2 separate regions of the Homo sapiens genome follow, and region 2 is linked to region 1. A link means that fine-mapping ties the variant in region 1 to the expression of a gene that starts in the linked region. Tissue or cell type: thyroid. Region 1 holds a variant in brackets; the other region holds the start of a gene. All regions are shown on one strand. Distances are between the middles of the regions.

What was found. PIP is the estimated chance that this variant, and not a neighbour inherited with it, causes the effect.
Region 2: it holds the start of PRR5-ARHGAP8, and the variant in region 1 is fine-mapped to the expression of PRR5-ARHGAP8 in thyroid (GTEx, PIP above 0.99).

What each region holds. Positions count from the first base shown.
Region 1 is chr22:44,803,109-44,811,209 of GRCh38, reverse strand. PRR5-ARHGAP8 (PRR5-ARHGAP8 readthrough) reads right to left here. Exons shown (of 15, transcript NM_181334.6): 7 at 2,772-2,903. ARHGAP8 (Rho GTPase activating protein 8) reads right to left here. Exons shown (of 12, transcript NM_181335.3): 4 at 2,772-2,903. Among named protein-coding and RNA genes, the nearest start is that of ARHGAP8, 55 kb to the right of the region's middle. RefSeq lists enhancers at 3,606-4,161, 4,162-4,717. The variant C/T (reference allele first, on the strand shown) is at 4,297.
Region 2 is chr22:44,698,337-44,706,437 of GRCh38, reverse strand. PRR5-ARHGAP8 (PRR5-ARHGAP8 readthrough) reads right to left here and starts at 4,234. Exons shown (of 15, transcript NM_181334.6): 1 at 3,830-4,234. The coding sequence starts at 3,963. PRR5 (proline rich 5) reads right to left here and starts at 4,234. Exons shown (of 8, transcript NM_181333.4): 1 at 3,830-4,234. The coding sequence starts at 3,963. RefSeq lists a silencer at 3,951-4,360 and an enhancer at 6,609-7,149.

The sequences.
Region 1 (8,101 bases):
GGCTGTGAAGGAATTCTGCTGCTTTCTCCCAAGCGGGAGTGACCCACTCCTTATGTGCGAACCAGCAGCCCCCTCGAGAAAGGGAAGGGAAAGCACCCTGGGCTGATTACGGGTTTGTTTCTCTGGGCTGATTTCTGGCAACTGAGAAGTGGGGGAGCTGCCTCAAGGAATCTGCGGGTGCATCTTCGTTTCTCACGTGGGGAAGTGCAGAGGGCAAAACCTTCATCTGCTTTAGCTCAAGACAGGGCTACTGTGCACATCCTGCTGTGAGCCTGAGCCTCCTGAAAGGGCTGCTTTAAACACATCACTCGCTTCTCCTCAAGCACCTGCCATGGCTCCCTGCTGCCTCTTAAACACAGTCCAGCATCCTCTGTGCCCCTCCCTCCTTTGCTGCCTCCCTCCACGGCTCCCCACGGGAACCCTACAGACCAGACCCCCACCAATTGCACCAAAGTCCACCCTGCTCTTTCTTGCATCTGGCCACACCTCGTACCAGAAGCAAAATCCAGTGATTGCCACTTCACAACACCCTGCCCACCACTCCACAGGCAGCTCAAAGGCTGCTTCCTCCATGCAGCCTTCCTGATTACGCCAGCTGGAACCTTGGTACTTCCTGCCAGTACCACTTCACTCCTCTATCCTCCCATCTAACGCTTAATAAAAGCCTGCCGGCTGGGCACAGTGGCTCACGCCTGTAATCCCGGCACTTTGGGAGGCCAAGGCAGGCGGATCACGAGGTCAGGAGTTCAAGACCAGCCTGGCCAACATAGTGAAACCCCGTCTCTACTAAAAATACAAAAATTAGCCGGGCATGGTGGCTCACGCCTGTAGTCCCAGGTACTCAGGAGGCTGAGGCAGGAGAATCACTTGAACCTGGGAGGTGGAGGTTGTGGTGAGCCGAGATCTCGCCACTGTGCTCCAGCCCAGGCAATAGAATGAGACTCTGTCTCAAAAAAAAAAAAAAAAAAAAAAAGGCTGCCATATGCAGATCCTTTCCCACCTGCAAGGGATGCAGAGACAGGTCCGGGATCACAGCCTAGTGCAGGAGGCAGACCTGTTCACAAACCCCTAAGTGCTAGCTAGGATTGGTGTCTGCTTAGGCACAGTGAGGCTGCAGGGAAGGGGCTATTGATTCTCCCAGGACAACCCAGGAAGCCTTCCTGGAGGAGGACATGCGCTGGGGCTAGGCCATCTCCAGCTTATACAGGTGCCCAGTAAATGACTGCAAAATACAGCAACAATTCTTTCCCTAAGACATAGGATGGGGAACCAAGAAGTCCCTCCGAAGGTCCTATTGATAATGACAGCAGGACCCAAAAGGCAACTGGAGGGAGGACTTCTGGGACATTCAGGCACTGCCTTCCACTGTCCCACTGACTCAGATATCTGTGAAGCAGATTTCTGTTACAGGTTTGAAAGGACTTTGAAGAAGGAAAACCCAGAGGAATCTAGGATATCCACATCAACGCCCATCGCCGCAGTCTACGAGCCAGATATATTGCCAAGTTGATTATTAGGCCGGACGTCCCTCAGGAAAAGTCTGCCGGCTCCAGGCCATGGCCAAGCGGTGAGTAGCGTTGGGTGGGAGAGGGAGGCGGGGGCCTGGGGTGGGATCCTGCCCTACCACACACAAGCTGAGTGACCACGGGTAAGTCACTTGCTCCCTGGGGCCTATGTCCTCATCTGTAAAATGAGGCTGCCATCTCACCAACAAGAGGCATCAGAATGCCCCTTGCAGACTGTAAAGGGCTGTGAAAGCAAGAAGAGGCTTTAGTGAAGAAACGGTCATGCAGTTGTTTCTTTGCCAGTAATTCACTGGACCAGGGGTGGGAGAATGGGCAGGCAGGATGAACCTAGCCTGCTTCCTGCTTTGGTACAGGCTGCAAGCTAAAAATGGCTTTTTATGTTTTTAAGTGGTTGAAAAAAAAAAACAGAAGAATATTTCATGACACGTGAAAATGACATGAAATTCACATTTCAGCGTCCATAATGTTTTACTGGAACACAGTCCAGCAGAGTTGTTGCAATAGAGCAACAGGCCTGCAAAGCTAAAATGCTGACTGTCTGGCCCTTTAAGAACAAGAGTGTTGGCTTGGCATGGTGGCTCCTGCCTGTAATCCCAGTACTTTGGGAGGCTGAGGTGGGAGGATCGCTTGAGCTTGGAGTTCGAGACCAGCCTGGGCCACATAGTGAGATCCCCGTCTCTACAAAAAAAAATACAAAAATTAGCTAGGCATGGTGGTGAACGCCTGTAGTCCCAGCTACTCAGGAGGCTGAGGCAAGAGGACTGCTTGAGCCCAGGAGGCCGAGGCTGCAGTGAACCATGATTGCACCACTGCACTCCAGCCTGGGCAACAGGGCGAGACTGTCTCTGTTTTTGTTTTTGGTTTTTTTTTTTTTGTATTTTTACTAGAGACAGGGTTTCGCCATGTTGGCCAGCCTGGTCTCGAACTCCTGACCTCAGGTGATCCACCCACCTTGGCCTCCCAAAGTACTGGGATTACAGGTGTGAGCCATGGTGGCTGGGTGAGACCGTCTCTTAAAAAAAAGAAAGAAAGAAAAAAAAAAATGAGTGCCAACCCCTGCCCGGGATTCCAGAGCTTGGCCCAGAGGGGAGGTGAACCTCCACTGCCCCACATTTGCTCACCCTCCACCCTCCGCCCTACCAGACCCCTCCCCCACTGCACACTCTGCGACCCCTTGTGGCCACAATGCCTCCTCCTGCCACAAGCAGCCCACACCCACGTCCCTGAAGGCTTGCGGGCACGTACTTCCTATCGAACTCCTTGTATGCGCTCTGGAGCCAGCCCAGGGAAGGCTTGTTCCGGCTGTTCAGCCCGTAGTGGAAATAGACGATGGTATAATCGTTCTCAACGTATTGGTCCAGTGTGTACTTCAAATACCTGGGCACAACACAGAAGATTCAGTTATGAAAATCACCTACTCATTATTGAAACCAAACGTGCTTTCCCTATAATGGAAGCTATGGTCACCCAGTAGGTGCCAGCACCGGGCCACATGGAGACTCCATGCACCGTGGGCCCCGGTCCTCATTTCCCAGATGACATCTGAGGCTCAGAGACGTTAAGTGACTTATCTAAAGTCACACAGCTAGTAAGTGGATGTGGTAGGCCAGATTGTTGCCCGTGGAAAGACATCCATATCAAATCCGTGGAGCCTGAGAATGTGACCTTATCTGGGAAAAAGGTCTTTGTAGGTGCAATTAAATTTAGGACCTTGAGAGGAGGGGCTCATCCTGGACTACCCAGGTGGACCTTCAGTGCAATCACATGCATCCTTCTAAGGCAGACACGAAGATGAGAAGTCAGAGGGCGGAAGGTCACGTAAAGACGGAGGCAAAGCAGAGTGTCGACGACAGCATGATGTGGCCACCAGCCCTGGAAGGCCCAGGACTGCTGACAGCCTTTATGGGCTGGACAGGCAAGGAAGGGCTTCTCCCTTCCCAGGGAGCACGGCCCTGGCCACACCTCAATTTTGAACTTCTGGCATCCAGAACTGTGAGAGAATACATTTCTGGTTTTACGCCACCACATTTGCGATCATGGTTACGGCAGCCCCGGGAAACTCACAAGGAGGATGAGCTGGGATTTGAACCCAGGAATGCTTGACTGCTCAGCCCTTGCCGTTGACCCCCAACACCACAGGCCCTTCTACCTCAGACACCCGGCTGCCTGCTGCATTTCTAAGGCAAGCAATTCCTTCCCTCCAGGTGAGCTCCTAACATTTTGCTTTTCATTACAAAGCCAGAGTCCTGACACTGTGCTCTGCGTCTGTCGCCCGCCACCCCCTATGGTGTAGGCTCTACCCATTTCCCATGGACCACGTTCCATCCTGCCCTGCTGCACCTAGCAAGCACTGTCTTCATGTCACCTGTGGGAAAGGGCTTGCCCTGCCATCTGCAGAAGGAAGGGCTCCAGAAGGACCCCCTAACCCTCCACCAGCACTCTGCAGGGCCTGACACTGAGCCGGTCAGGCCATGATCCCTCAGCTCAGGTTGTCCAGGTTCTCACCTGGAGCACATCTTGTAATTAACCCACCCACGTGGCCCCACTCTCTGAGGCTGTGGGTGGGGTGCTCTGCAGACAGAAGCTCCCAGAACTGCCTCGGGAGAAAGCCGCAGCAGCCTGTGCCCACCTGCAGAGGCTCGGCTGGTCCCGCACTGCCCGGAAGCCTGGAGACCAAGGATGCCAGCTTCTCCTGTGTGCGTTTGATTTCTTTTTTTTTTTTTTTTGAGACAGAGTCTGTCACCCAGGCTGGAGTGCAGTGGTGTGATCT[C/T]GGCTCACTGCAAGCTCCGCCTCCTGGATTCACGCCGTTCTCGTGCCTCAGCCTCCTGAGTAGCTGGGACTACAGGCGCCTGCCACCACGCCCGGCTAATTTTTTTTAATTACTATTATTTTTAGTAGAGGCGGGGTTTCACTGAGTTAGCCAGGATGGTCTTGATCTTCTGACCTCGTGATCCACCCGCCTCGGCCTCCCAAAGTGCTGGGATTACAGGCATGAGCCACCGTGCCCGGCCTGTGCGTTTGATTTCTAAGTGATGTCAGAGTGCCCTCTGACAAAAGCCCATACCACCTGAACTGCAGGCCTTCTACACGTTTAATTCTCCCAATGACCCTAGGAGCCAGGTACTATTATCTCCATTTTATAGACAAGTCAACTGAGACTCACAGAGGTGAATCAGTAAGGGGCAGAGCTGGGCTTTGAACCAAGTGGCCTGGCTCCAGCTTCCACACACTCAGCGTCTCTGAGAACTGTGGGCTGCCATCCACGCCTGCTCCCATCCCGTTGTCTGCTTTGATGTAGAGAAATCACGCACATCTGACCTCACACCATGCATGATTTCAGCTCACCCGTTGTGGAAGTAACTTCAAAACTCATTTTCCAGAGTGCTGTCTCGAACACCATGTGGGCTAAGCCACCGGGGCATACTTCACCAAGGTCATCCTTTATTGAGTCACTTTCTCAGAAAAACCCAGGTCGAGACTTCCACCTGAACACAGAGGGGTGGAAGAGTCCACGAACCACTGAGAACTCTTCACTCCTCCTCACTTCTCAGGATAGCCACTTTTGTATTTCGCAAATGACTTTTTCAAGAGAGGGAAACTGAGGCCAATGTCTTTGCACAGCTCCTCTTCCCACTCTGGGCGCCTCCTTGTAAAAGCAGGCACCCTTCCTTTGGCCCCAGCGCTGGGCTCTCCCCAGTGCCTTCTGTTCAGCACACTGAAATCCTCTGAGTGTCAATGCATCTGCCCGCGTGCTCAGCACAGGAAGTCATTAACTAAATTACTAGTTGGGTTTCAAAGACATAGACTTGTTTCTTCACCCGCTTCAAAAATAGGAGCATGCATCTGGCCACAAGAAAGCCATCCGGTTGGAATGGATAGGGAGGATAATGTACGGGGTGTTAATTTTTTTCATAAAGGCTGCGGAGAAGTAAGCCTGATGGCTCTTCTTATCAAGGCCGAGAAGCCCACAGAGCACCTTTGCATGAGTTAGAAAAAGATGCCTTTTCCTCTGGGCAGATGCTTGTCCCACGCTGAGTGAAAAAAGCACCAGGTGATGGTAGCTTCTCATCTGGTTAGCCTTGTGCTGTGAACAACCTATACAACTGTTCATGGAAGCCATGCTTACTACTTCCACCTAATAGTAAAGGAATCTTGGATAAGCACATAAAAGAGCACAAGGTACCAATTTGTTGTCAGGGGTGCTTTTTGTCCAATTTAGTTGAAATTCACATAACATAAATTAACCACTTTCAAGTGAACAATTCAGGCATCTAGTACATTCACAAAGCTGTGCAATTACCCCCTCTCTACAGCTCTGAAACACTGTTATCACCCCAAAAGAAAACTGAGACCTGTTCAACAGTCATTCTCCCCATCACACTCCCGGTACCCGGCAACCACCAATTCGCTTTCTGTCTTTGCAGGCACTTTTGTCTTTATAAGAACAGCAAATCGTGAGCTCATTCCTGGCCCAGCAGCAGCCTCCTCGGGGAGAGCTGACCCACAGGTCACAGGTCTTTCCGTGCCTAAATGACCTGACAAGGGAATGCGTCCTCTCAAGAGGACCCCAGGAGACGAGCTCTTCCTGGATCTAGCATCCATCTCTCCCTGTGTGCCTGGTAAACACCAAGAGTGGGCTGCAGGCTGGCATCGGCTCCTCACTGGGGTGAGCACCTCCTGGGGAAAGCCAGCCTCACTGTCTGGGGTAATCAGCACCAGGATCCAAGCTCGCCCCATGAATCCTGCAGGTCTCGCCGTGCAGCAGCAGCACTGGTGCACTGGTGGAAGTCGCTCCCGGCACCTGCTCCCCGCCAGGTCTCTGCCTTTGCCACTGCAGTTTCAGCTGTGGTCAGAAGATTCTTTAACAGACCAGATAGAATGCATATATTGGGGGGACTCTCATGAAGCAACCAGCCCAAAGTCTTCTGGGTGCTTCTATGTCCGATCATGCCTTTGTTCATCTTGAGTTGGGGGTTCCAGGTCGAGCCCACTCCCTGAGTCCCTTGGCTTTAGCAGTTAGATGCTGGCATCTGGAAGTGGTGGCAGGCACAGCCTCCCCGCCAGGGTCACGTCCTGAGCTGTCCCCAGCAGTGAGGGAGTCTGCAGCAGGCCAGGTGCCGTGCTCCCTGTCCTCACAAGGGCACATAAATGTTTCCAGGGACACCCAGAGATCGGCCAGGGCTTGGCCTCAGAAATGAAGCTCAATCAGTTCATTGTCGGGGAGCAAATTCCAAGGCCCTCAGAACCTAACTTCCCTTCACTAAGACTGAGCTTCTCCCCTGGGCCTGGGGGCCTCTCACTCACACAGACAGGGATTCCAGCAGAGGTGCTGCTCTCGCTATTTTGCCAACTCTCCCCCAGCAGCAGCTCTCCTGGGCCGGGGAGTTTCACCAGGAAGGAGGCTCGGTGGCCGCCTTATGAAAGCAGTGTGGCCAGCACAGCAGACACCAGCAGCAAGGGACAGATGAAAGAGGATGACAGGGCGCCCAAGGCCATACACAGGTGAGGAACAGGTGGTTCCTTCTGAGCAATGGGAAACGGCCAATGCAGAGGGTGCAGGGTGCGAGGCCCATGTGGCTTTGAGGAGGGTGATGGAGGGAGGGAAGGAAGCAGGCAGACCTAAGAGGGCGTGAGGCCCGGGCCCACGCTCAAGACTGTGGACCCAAAGCTGCTTTGGGCTGGAGAAGGCTCAGTCCTGCAGGTGGGTCTGGTGGCCTGGGGGTCATGTGACAGCCATCTAAGGACCCATGAGTCAATCTACTTTAGGTTAGTCTTTCACTCTGAACACCCAGTCTGTGCTGAGCATGTGACTTAGTCAACTTAGTGATGGAGAAGCGTGTGCACAAGAGGTGTGTGTGTATGAGAGCAGGTATGTGTGCACAGGAGGGGGTGTGTTCCTGGGAGGGGGTGTGTGCATGGGAGGGGGTGTGTGCATGGGAGAGGGTGGGTGCATGAGAGGAGGTGCATGCATGGGGGGGTGTGTTCCTGGGAGGGGGTGTGTGCACGGGAGGGGGTGTGTGCATGGGAGGGGGTGTGTGCATGGGAGGTGGTGTCTGCATAGTGGTGGGGGGTGGAGAGAGGACAGCCACAGTAGGGGACTGGCACAGAACGCAGGTAAGCACACAAGGGGACATATGCAAGGGACGATGTGTTTGGGGGTGCTGCATGCAAAGGCTGGGGGAACAGAAGGTGTAGACCCAGGAGGGGTAATGTACAGGGAGAGGCCACACACAGCTTTGGTGGCTATGAGGGCCCCTGGGCCCGTCCCTTCAAAGGGTTCTGTTCAATGCAGTAAAAGGTTCCTTGCCCAAGTTAGTTTGGGAAACTGCCTGAGACCTCCCCTTCTGAATGCTCCTGATGCTTGTTGGTATGGCAAACTAACAACAACCTTGATTTTCTACGGCCCCCCACCCTGTACCAGCTGTGGAGCCCATGCGCACCTGGGTGGCACTGGGAGTGTACAAGGGACATGGGGCCCAGGCACCCCCTCACTCGGCCCCTTCCACGTCCTGCCACCTTCTGTCTCAGAGTCATTTCCTGGCCTTAGTTCTCCCACCCCAAACCACAGGGGTGAT
Region 2 (8,101 bases), 100 kb after region 1:
GCTTTCCTCCCAGCACTAAGCCCACCTGCATTTACTTACCTCCTTGTTTATTTACCAATGCCTCCCTCTGGGAACTCTAAGCTCCAGGAGGCTGTTCTCTGCTGAATCTATGCCCTGAGCAGCCCAGTGCTGGCACAGTCAATGAATGAATGAATAAACGAATGAATGAATGAATCAATCAATCAATCAATGACTCAGTTCTCATGACAGAGCAAGCCTTACACTTGATGGAAATAGGGTCTTTGCAGCGGTATTTAATTAAGGACCTGGAGATGATCCTTAACTAAGGATGGGCCCTAAATCCAATAACTAGTGTTTTTACAAGAGAAAGGGGAGGGAGCCTGGTGTGGTGGCTCATGCCTGTAATCCCAGCACTTCCGGAGGCTGAGGCAGGCGGATCACCAGAGGTCAGGAGTTTGAGAGTAGCCTGGCCAACACGGTGAAACCCTGTCTCTACTAAAAATACAAAAATTAGCTGGGCATGGTGGCATGGTAGTGGGCGCCTACAATCCCAGCTACTTGGGAGGCTGAAGCAGGAGAATTGCTTGAACCTGTGGGGGCGGAGAATGCAATGAGCTGAGATTGCACCACTGCACTCCAGCCTGGGTGACAGAGTGAGACTCCACCTCAAAAACAAAAACAAAAATTAGCTGGGCATGGTGGTGCACGCCTGTAATCCCAGCTATTAGGGAGGCTGCGACAGGAGAATCACTTGAACCCGGGAGGTGGAGGTTGCAGTGAGCTGAGATTGCACCAGTGCACTCCAGCCTGGGTGACAGAGCAAGATTCCGTCTCAAAAGAAAACAAAAAAGAGGCTGGGCACGGTGGCTCACACCTGTAATCCCAGCACTTTGGGAGGCCGAGGTGGGCAGATCACCTGAGGTCAGGAGTTAGAGACTAGCCTGACCAACATGGCAAAACCCCGTCTCTACTAAAAGTACAAAAAATTAGCCGGGCGTGGTGGTGGGCGCCTGTAATCCCAGCTACTCCAGAGGCTGAGGAAGGAGAATTGCTTGAACCCAGGAGGCAGAAGCTGCAGTGAGCTGAGATCACACCATTGCACTCCAGCCTGGACAAGAGTGAAACTCCGTCTCAAGAAAGGAAAAAAAATAGAGAGAGAGAAAGGAGAGGGAGATTTGGACGTGGAAATGAAAGCCATGGGGAGGTACATATTGGAGTGATGCAGCCACAAGCCAAAGAGCCACCAGAAGCTTCAAGAAGCTCCTCCCCTAGAGCCTCTGGTGGGAGCGACACCTGGACTTCAAGCTTCTGGCTCCAGAACTGTGAGGGAACAAATTTCTGCTGTTTTAGGCCACCGAGTTTGTGGTCTTTGTTACAGCAGCTCTGGGAAGCTAATACAGTCACACAGATAAAAGGGGGTGTGTCTTGGACTCATAATGAGGAGTACACGGCCAGGCCCTGCAGAATGACACGCCTGTCCCCGACCCTGCACAGATCTGTTGTCCTAGGGGGCCCTGGCAGGGAGCACCGCTAGGAGCAGGAGCATGCAGACAGGGACCAGAAGGGGTGCCCTGCTCCCTGCAGTTTCCACTCAGGGACTTGGCTGGTGAAGCCAGTTTGCCTTCTCTTGGCTCCATCTCCCACATCTGCTGGGGAGGAGAGCTGGGGCGCAGGCTCTGCTGCATCCTGTGCAGGTGATGGATGAGCTGGGCATGTCTCCTGGGTGCTCTCTCTGCCCTTCTGCATCTCTCGGTGGGGGGTGCTGGTAATACCTCGCTGGGCTAGGAGAGTGGCAAAGTCAGTTAAGGGCAGTGAACGGGGCTGGCCTGGGGCCTGGCACATAAGAGGAGTGCAGGAAATGGCCGTGCCCCTGCTGCCTGGGGTGGTGGGAGCTGATGTAGGCCTAAGGGCTGGGAGACCTGGAGCCCTGCAGGTGCCGCGGGGAGGGGCTGGCATTTCTCTGCAATCTGCCAGGCTGCTGAGTGAAATCTGGTGGGGCGGGGGTTGCTCAGGCAGAGTCCCCCTGAGGCCTCCCTGAACTCTGAGAAGACACTTGAGACTCAGAGCCCACTCCAGGGTCACCCAAGGTTGGGTGAGGGCAGTGTCTAAGCCAGCAACCAGCCAGTGCCCCCACCTGTCTGGGGACCCGCAGCAGGACGCCCCACCTCGGGGGTGGGAGGGAGCTCACCAAGTGGCTGTCAGTGGGTGCTCAGGAACTGACTGATTCCTGTGGAGCCCTCCAAATGCCATCCCTACAGGGACACCCCGACACTGGTCCACTGCGTGAGTCTGGGGTTGAGCTGTGAGGTACAGAGGACTTACTATGTGCTAAGCACTGTGTTGAGGGCTTTATTTTGCATGTTCAAATTTCATCCCTACAACAGCCCCATGAGGTGGGCACTGTTATCTGCCCGTTTTATGGATAAGGAAATTGAGGACCTGACTTGCTCAAGACCACAGAGTAGGGAAGAGGCAGAGTTGGGATTTGAAATAAGTCTATTTAACTCTTTCCTCTAAATCACGGCAGAGATTCAAGGACAGAGAGATGGCTTTCATCTCAATACTGGAGGAGAACACTGCTCTTCTTTTTTTTTGAGATAGGGTCTTGCTCTGTCACCGAGGCTGGAGTGCAGTGGTGGCATCATGGCTCATGGCAGCCTCGACTTCCCTGGCTCAAGTAATCCTCCCATCTTGGCCTCCCAAAGTGCTAGGATTACAGGTGTGAGCCGCCGTGCCTGGTGGAGAACACAGCTCTTAAGACACTGTGCAGTCGTTGGGTCAGGGAGATTTCCCAACAGGAGTCCTTCCTTCACTGTTCCCACACCAGCCCTCCCCACAGGGAGGAATGCGAATACCCACTGACGGAGAGGGAAACGGAGGCAGGCATGTGACAGCCCTCTAGCAGTTTGCAACTCAGAGACAGAAGAGACCACGTTTGAAGAGGGTCTCGCTGGCAGCCCTGAGCCCACCATGACGCTCACAATGCATTCAATGAACTGAAAATAACGTGTGTCCAAGTGACAGCCGGGTTCCCGGTGGCCAAGACCACAGCCGGTGGAGCATCTGGCAAGATTTTACTGCCAGGTGTGGGCGCGAGAGGGGCAACGTCCACAGCCTCCCCCGAACAGTGTCCACAGCCTCCCCCGAACAGTGTCCACTGCCTCCCGCGAACAGCCTGCCTCACTTTCTCCTGCCTCTCATTTTCCTAGGGAGCAGAGACGCTGGGGAGTTCCACTAAATAAACCGTCTCTTTTCCAGATCCCGGACTTGCTCCTCAAACAAAGCTGGGAGAAGGGGCTTCCCAGGCCCCTGCTTGTCTGGGAATGACCCCTGGAGGAGAGTCCTCTAAAGAATGCCTCGCAGCTGCCGCACCCCCTGCTGACAGCTGGAGGACAGGGGGCCTCTCAAGGGAAAGCCGAAGGGAGCTTAAAGAGACACAGGAAGCCTGCGCGACCCACCCACTGAGCCCCGAGGCTCCCGTGCTCAGCCGCAAAATGGGAAAAATACTTCCTGCTCCGTTAGCCTCCCAGGTTGTCACGAGCACCGCAGTGGAGACGTGGAAAGACCCCGGGTAGGAGGCGGGCACGCGGCTTCCCGGCCCACCCCGCCGCCCACCCGCCGGGCGCTTCTGGGCCAGCCCCGGGCGCTGGCGGGCCTCGCTCCCTTCCCTGGGTTCTGGAACCACGCTGCACTGAACTTTCCTCCAGGCCCGCACCACTCCGGCGGGGCAAGTTCTTTGCAAACTGTGAAGCGCCGCGCCGCCTTCGGCAGCGTTCCTGGCTCGGGGCGGCCCCTAGCCCGCGGACGGCTCAGGGGTCCCCTCCCCCGGCTCCAGGGCCTCCGGGTGGCCGGGAGGGCGCGGCCTTACCTGTTCCAGGTGGCGTTGGCGCAGGCCCGGCGCTGCTGCGTGCCCCGCTCGTCCGCGGCGGCGGCCGGCTCTCTCTTGCCCAGGTCACTGAGGCTGGGCGAACTCATGAACTTCAACCTGCGGAGAGTCCTCATGGTGACCCGGGCCGCCTGCGCCGCGCCCACGCGCGCCCCACGCCGCGCCCTGCGCCACGCCGCACCAAGGGCCCCGGGCCGGCGATGCGCCCTCTACGCGGAAACTCCGGCGAGAGCAGGAAGCCGAGCGGTCCTGCGGGGTCCCGCCCCGGCCCCGCGCCTCCGTCTCGGGTCCCGCGCCGGCCGCCCCGCCGGGTTAATCATTGCACGGAGAGGCTCAGCGTGGAGCGCCAGGCGCGCGGCCAGCACAGACCCGGCGCAAACGGAGGCCGGGGGCGGACCCGGGGGCGGGCCCAGGGGCGGGTCTCGGCGCCCCGGGGGGCGGGGCGGGGAAGGGGGCGGGGGCATCGCGGGCGGGGCGGGGCCTCAGGCGAGGGGGCGTGTGCAAGAGGCGGAGCCGGCGTCTCCGCGGCCGCAGCTGCCACGACGCCTCGCTGGGTCTGCCCTCTGAGGACGTGCTCACCCTCCTCCCCTCTTCCGAGGGCCCCACGTGCCCACAGGAAACCAACACGCACAGGACGCAGGGCCCAAGCCCAAGCGCCCGCCCCCCGCCCAGCACTGCGGTCGCGCCCACACGATGTCCTTCGACCCCGGCCCCGGAGGTCTCCCTCCACAGCCCTCCTCGCAAAGGCTGTGCCACAGAGGTGCCTCCGTACCCCTCACCTGAACACAGGCTCCCCCACCCAGTTCTCATGAGGACTTTGGGTAGAGGCCTTCAGTCCCCTCCAGGCACCTTGGCCCAAGAACCCACTCCACCCGGGCTCAGCCTAGACCCCCTTGGACAGGGACTTCAGCATTGCCTGGCTGCCTGGAGGATTTGCTGGAGTGAGGGCTTGAAGAAGTAGAGGGTTTGCTCCTTATCTCCCACCCCCAGGTCTCTTGGATGGTAAAACCAAGCAGTTTCCCAAGTCCCTGTGGTGGGGGCAGAGTGATCCCAGTGAAGGCAGGGCACAGCCGGTGCTTCCTGCCTGCTTCGCAGAGCACTTTTAGATGTCTGATTTCACATGAACTAACATGAACTACTTCCGTGAGGTAGAGATTATTCTTCTCCCCATTTTCCAGTTGAGGACATTGAGGCTCACAGAGTGAAATAACTTGCCCAACATTGTGCCAACATTGTGCAATCAACAAATGGTAGAGTTGGGCTTCACCACAGGGAGCGTCCAGCCCCTTGAACAGGGCCCTTCCCAGTCCCCAGCTTCTGGGATTCCCACAAGGCTCACCTGACCCCTCCATCAGATGGGGGGTGACAGCCACAGCTCCAGGAGCTGGGAGGGCCCCATATAAAATGTAAGAGAGAGGTGATGGCTCATGCCTGTAATCCCAGCACTTTGGGAGGCCGAGGTGGGAGGATCACCTGAGGTCAGGAGTTCAAGACCAGCCCGGCCAACATGGAGAAACCCCATCTCTATTAAAAATACAAAATTAGCTGGGCGTGGTGGTGCATGCCCGTAATCCCAGCTACTCAGGAGGCTGAGACAGGAGAATCGCTTGAACCTGGGAGGCAGAGGTTGCAGAGAGCTGAGATCTCGCCACTGCACTCCAGCCTGGGCAACAACAGCAAAACTCCGTCTCAAAAATCATCATCATCATAATAAAATAAAATAAAAAGTAAGAGAGCCTCATGAAGAGTCTTTGTTTAGTGCAAATCAACCAGTGTCTCCTGAGTACCTCCTGTGTTCCAGACATAAATACCATCGTCTTTGGGAGACAGAGACATAAACAGACAAACTTGCTCATCAGTAAAGCGGGATGGAACGGTTCATCTCACAGGCAGCTTGGGGCCCACAGGCAGCAACAGGTGCTTTATAAACTAACTGTCAAGTGCTGTACACGTTTTCTTTTCTTTTTGAGACAGAGTCTCACTTTTTGGCCCAGGTTGAATGCAGTGGCACCACTGTGGTCACTGCAGCCTCTACCTCCTGGGTTCAAGCAACCCTCCCACGTTAGCCTCCTGAATAGCTGGGACTACAAGGCATGTGCCACCATGCCTGGCTGATTTTTTGCGTGTGTGATGGCGTTTCGCTCTTGTCGCCTGTGGAGTGCAATGGCGCAATCATGGCTCACTGCTAACCTCTGCCTCCCAGGTTCAAGTGATTCTCCTGCCTCAATCTAGTGAGTAGCTGAGATTATAGGCACCTACCACCACGCCTGGCTGATTTTTTTATTTATTAGTAGAGATGGGGTTTCACCATGTTGGCCAGGCTGGTCTTAAACTCCTGACCTCAGGTGATCCTCCCACCTCGGCCTCCTAAAGTGCTGGGATTACAAGAATGAACCACTGTGCCCGGCTCCCTGGCTAATTTTTAAAAAATTTTGTAATAGAGACAAGGTCTTGCTATGTTGCCCAGGCTGGTCTCAAACTTCTGGACTCAAGGAGTCCTCCCACTTTTGGCCACCCATAGTGTTAGGATTACAGGCATGAACTACTGTGCCTAGCCCACGCTCTCAAACTTACGGGAACACTGTATCTTTTAGATCCCAAACCAAATTTCATGGCCAGACAAGGATTTCCTACCTTACTGCTGTAAAAAAAAAAACAAAAACAACAACAAAAAACATATAAAAATACTAAAGCATGTACTGAATTGTCTCTGAAAAGAATGAAAACAGAGGATAAAGCCCAGATCCTTGACTCCTCGGAGGGGCCTTTGAGACCTGCTTGCCCTCCAGCTGCGGGTCCCTCCCCTGCCCTAGAACGTCTTTCAGAGAAGTTAGTTGCCCCTGTCTCTGACCGCCTTCACTCTCAATTAGGCTCAGGGGGCGTCCTGTTGTCACCCGATGACTTTTTTTCCATCCTATGCCATAAGCCAGGAGGGCAAGAACCGTAACAACTTGTTCACTGCTACAGTCCCCGTGCCTAGCACAGACTGGGTGCTTCATAGATATTTGGTTTAACGGATGGATGAACATTTATCTCATAAGAATAAAGGGATTACATTGGACCCCACTGGTGAAAATGCCTCATAAAAGTGCCCAGGCTGGACAGATGTGAGCGAGAATCTCCGTCATGGCCACTGGTGTAAACGCAGCAAAGCAGAACCGCCAGGGATCCGGATGGGATGAAATGGTTTCCCACGCCGGAGGCTGGCTCTCAGGAGAGGACTGGCTTTGTGGGCTCAGCACAGCCTGGTCCCAAGCTTGCTGACCACAGGCAGGGCCTGGCTGGCAGGAGGGGCCAGCTCCAGAGAGGGAGGGAGGCCTGACTGCTTGGGATAAGAAATCAGAGAGAAATGGGCAGCCCGAGGTGGGAGGCAGGAGGAGGGAAACAGGGGGCTGGGAATGCTGTAGGCATCTGGGAGAAGCGGCCAGCCAGAAATTCCGGAGGTGGGGATGGCTGAGGAATTTTAAAGAGATCTTTAAAAAAGGCATCTCTAGTCAGCGTTAAGGAATTAGCTATAACCTCTCCCTGGCCCCAGCCACAGATGTGTAAAATCTGTCTACACCCAACAGCCCAGCGCCAGGAGGGCAGTGGAGGCTCAAGCAAAGGTGCTAGTGCTCTGGGTTTGGGCCGTGACAGGCAGAGAGGGCACAGCTGCGGGGCTGCCCCGGGGCCAGAAACCCCAGGCAGAGGCCACAAGGGGACAGAGCTGTCACAAACCCTCAGAGCAGGGGGCAACTGGGGGACAAAGGGCGGAGTCTAGCCCCTAAGTGTGCTCTGTGTGGCCTGCAGCGTCGGAGGAAAATAAACCAAACTGCGTGCGGCCAACATCTTACAACATTTTACAACGGAGAGATTGACACAGAAACCCGGATTCTGGCCGCCCTGAAGCATCAGGTGACAGTCTTGCTGGGCCTGAGCCCCACGTGACAGCTCCCACCCGGCTACTGCCCCTGCCAGCAGGCACAAGGCCTCCAGGTGCCCACCGGGCCCTCCTCTCACTTATGGGGCTTTCTGGGTCTGAGGAGGGGGCTGGGGGACCCAGCAATTGTATTGTGGCGGGGTACCCTGGGCAGGGCTCATTTGTGTCTGAGACCAGGGAAGGGAAATGTCCCTCTGTTAAGGAAATGAGAGACAAAGGGACTCAGTCACACATCCCCAAAGCCACCAGAGTGGCCCCCACTCCAGACTCATTCACACATCCCCAAAGCCACCAGAGCCACCTCTGCTCCAGACTCATTCACACAACCCCAAAGC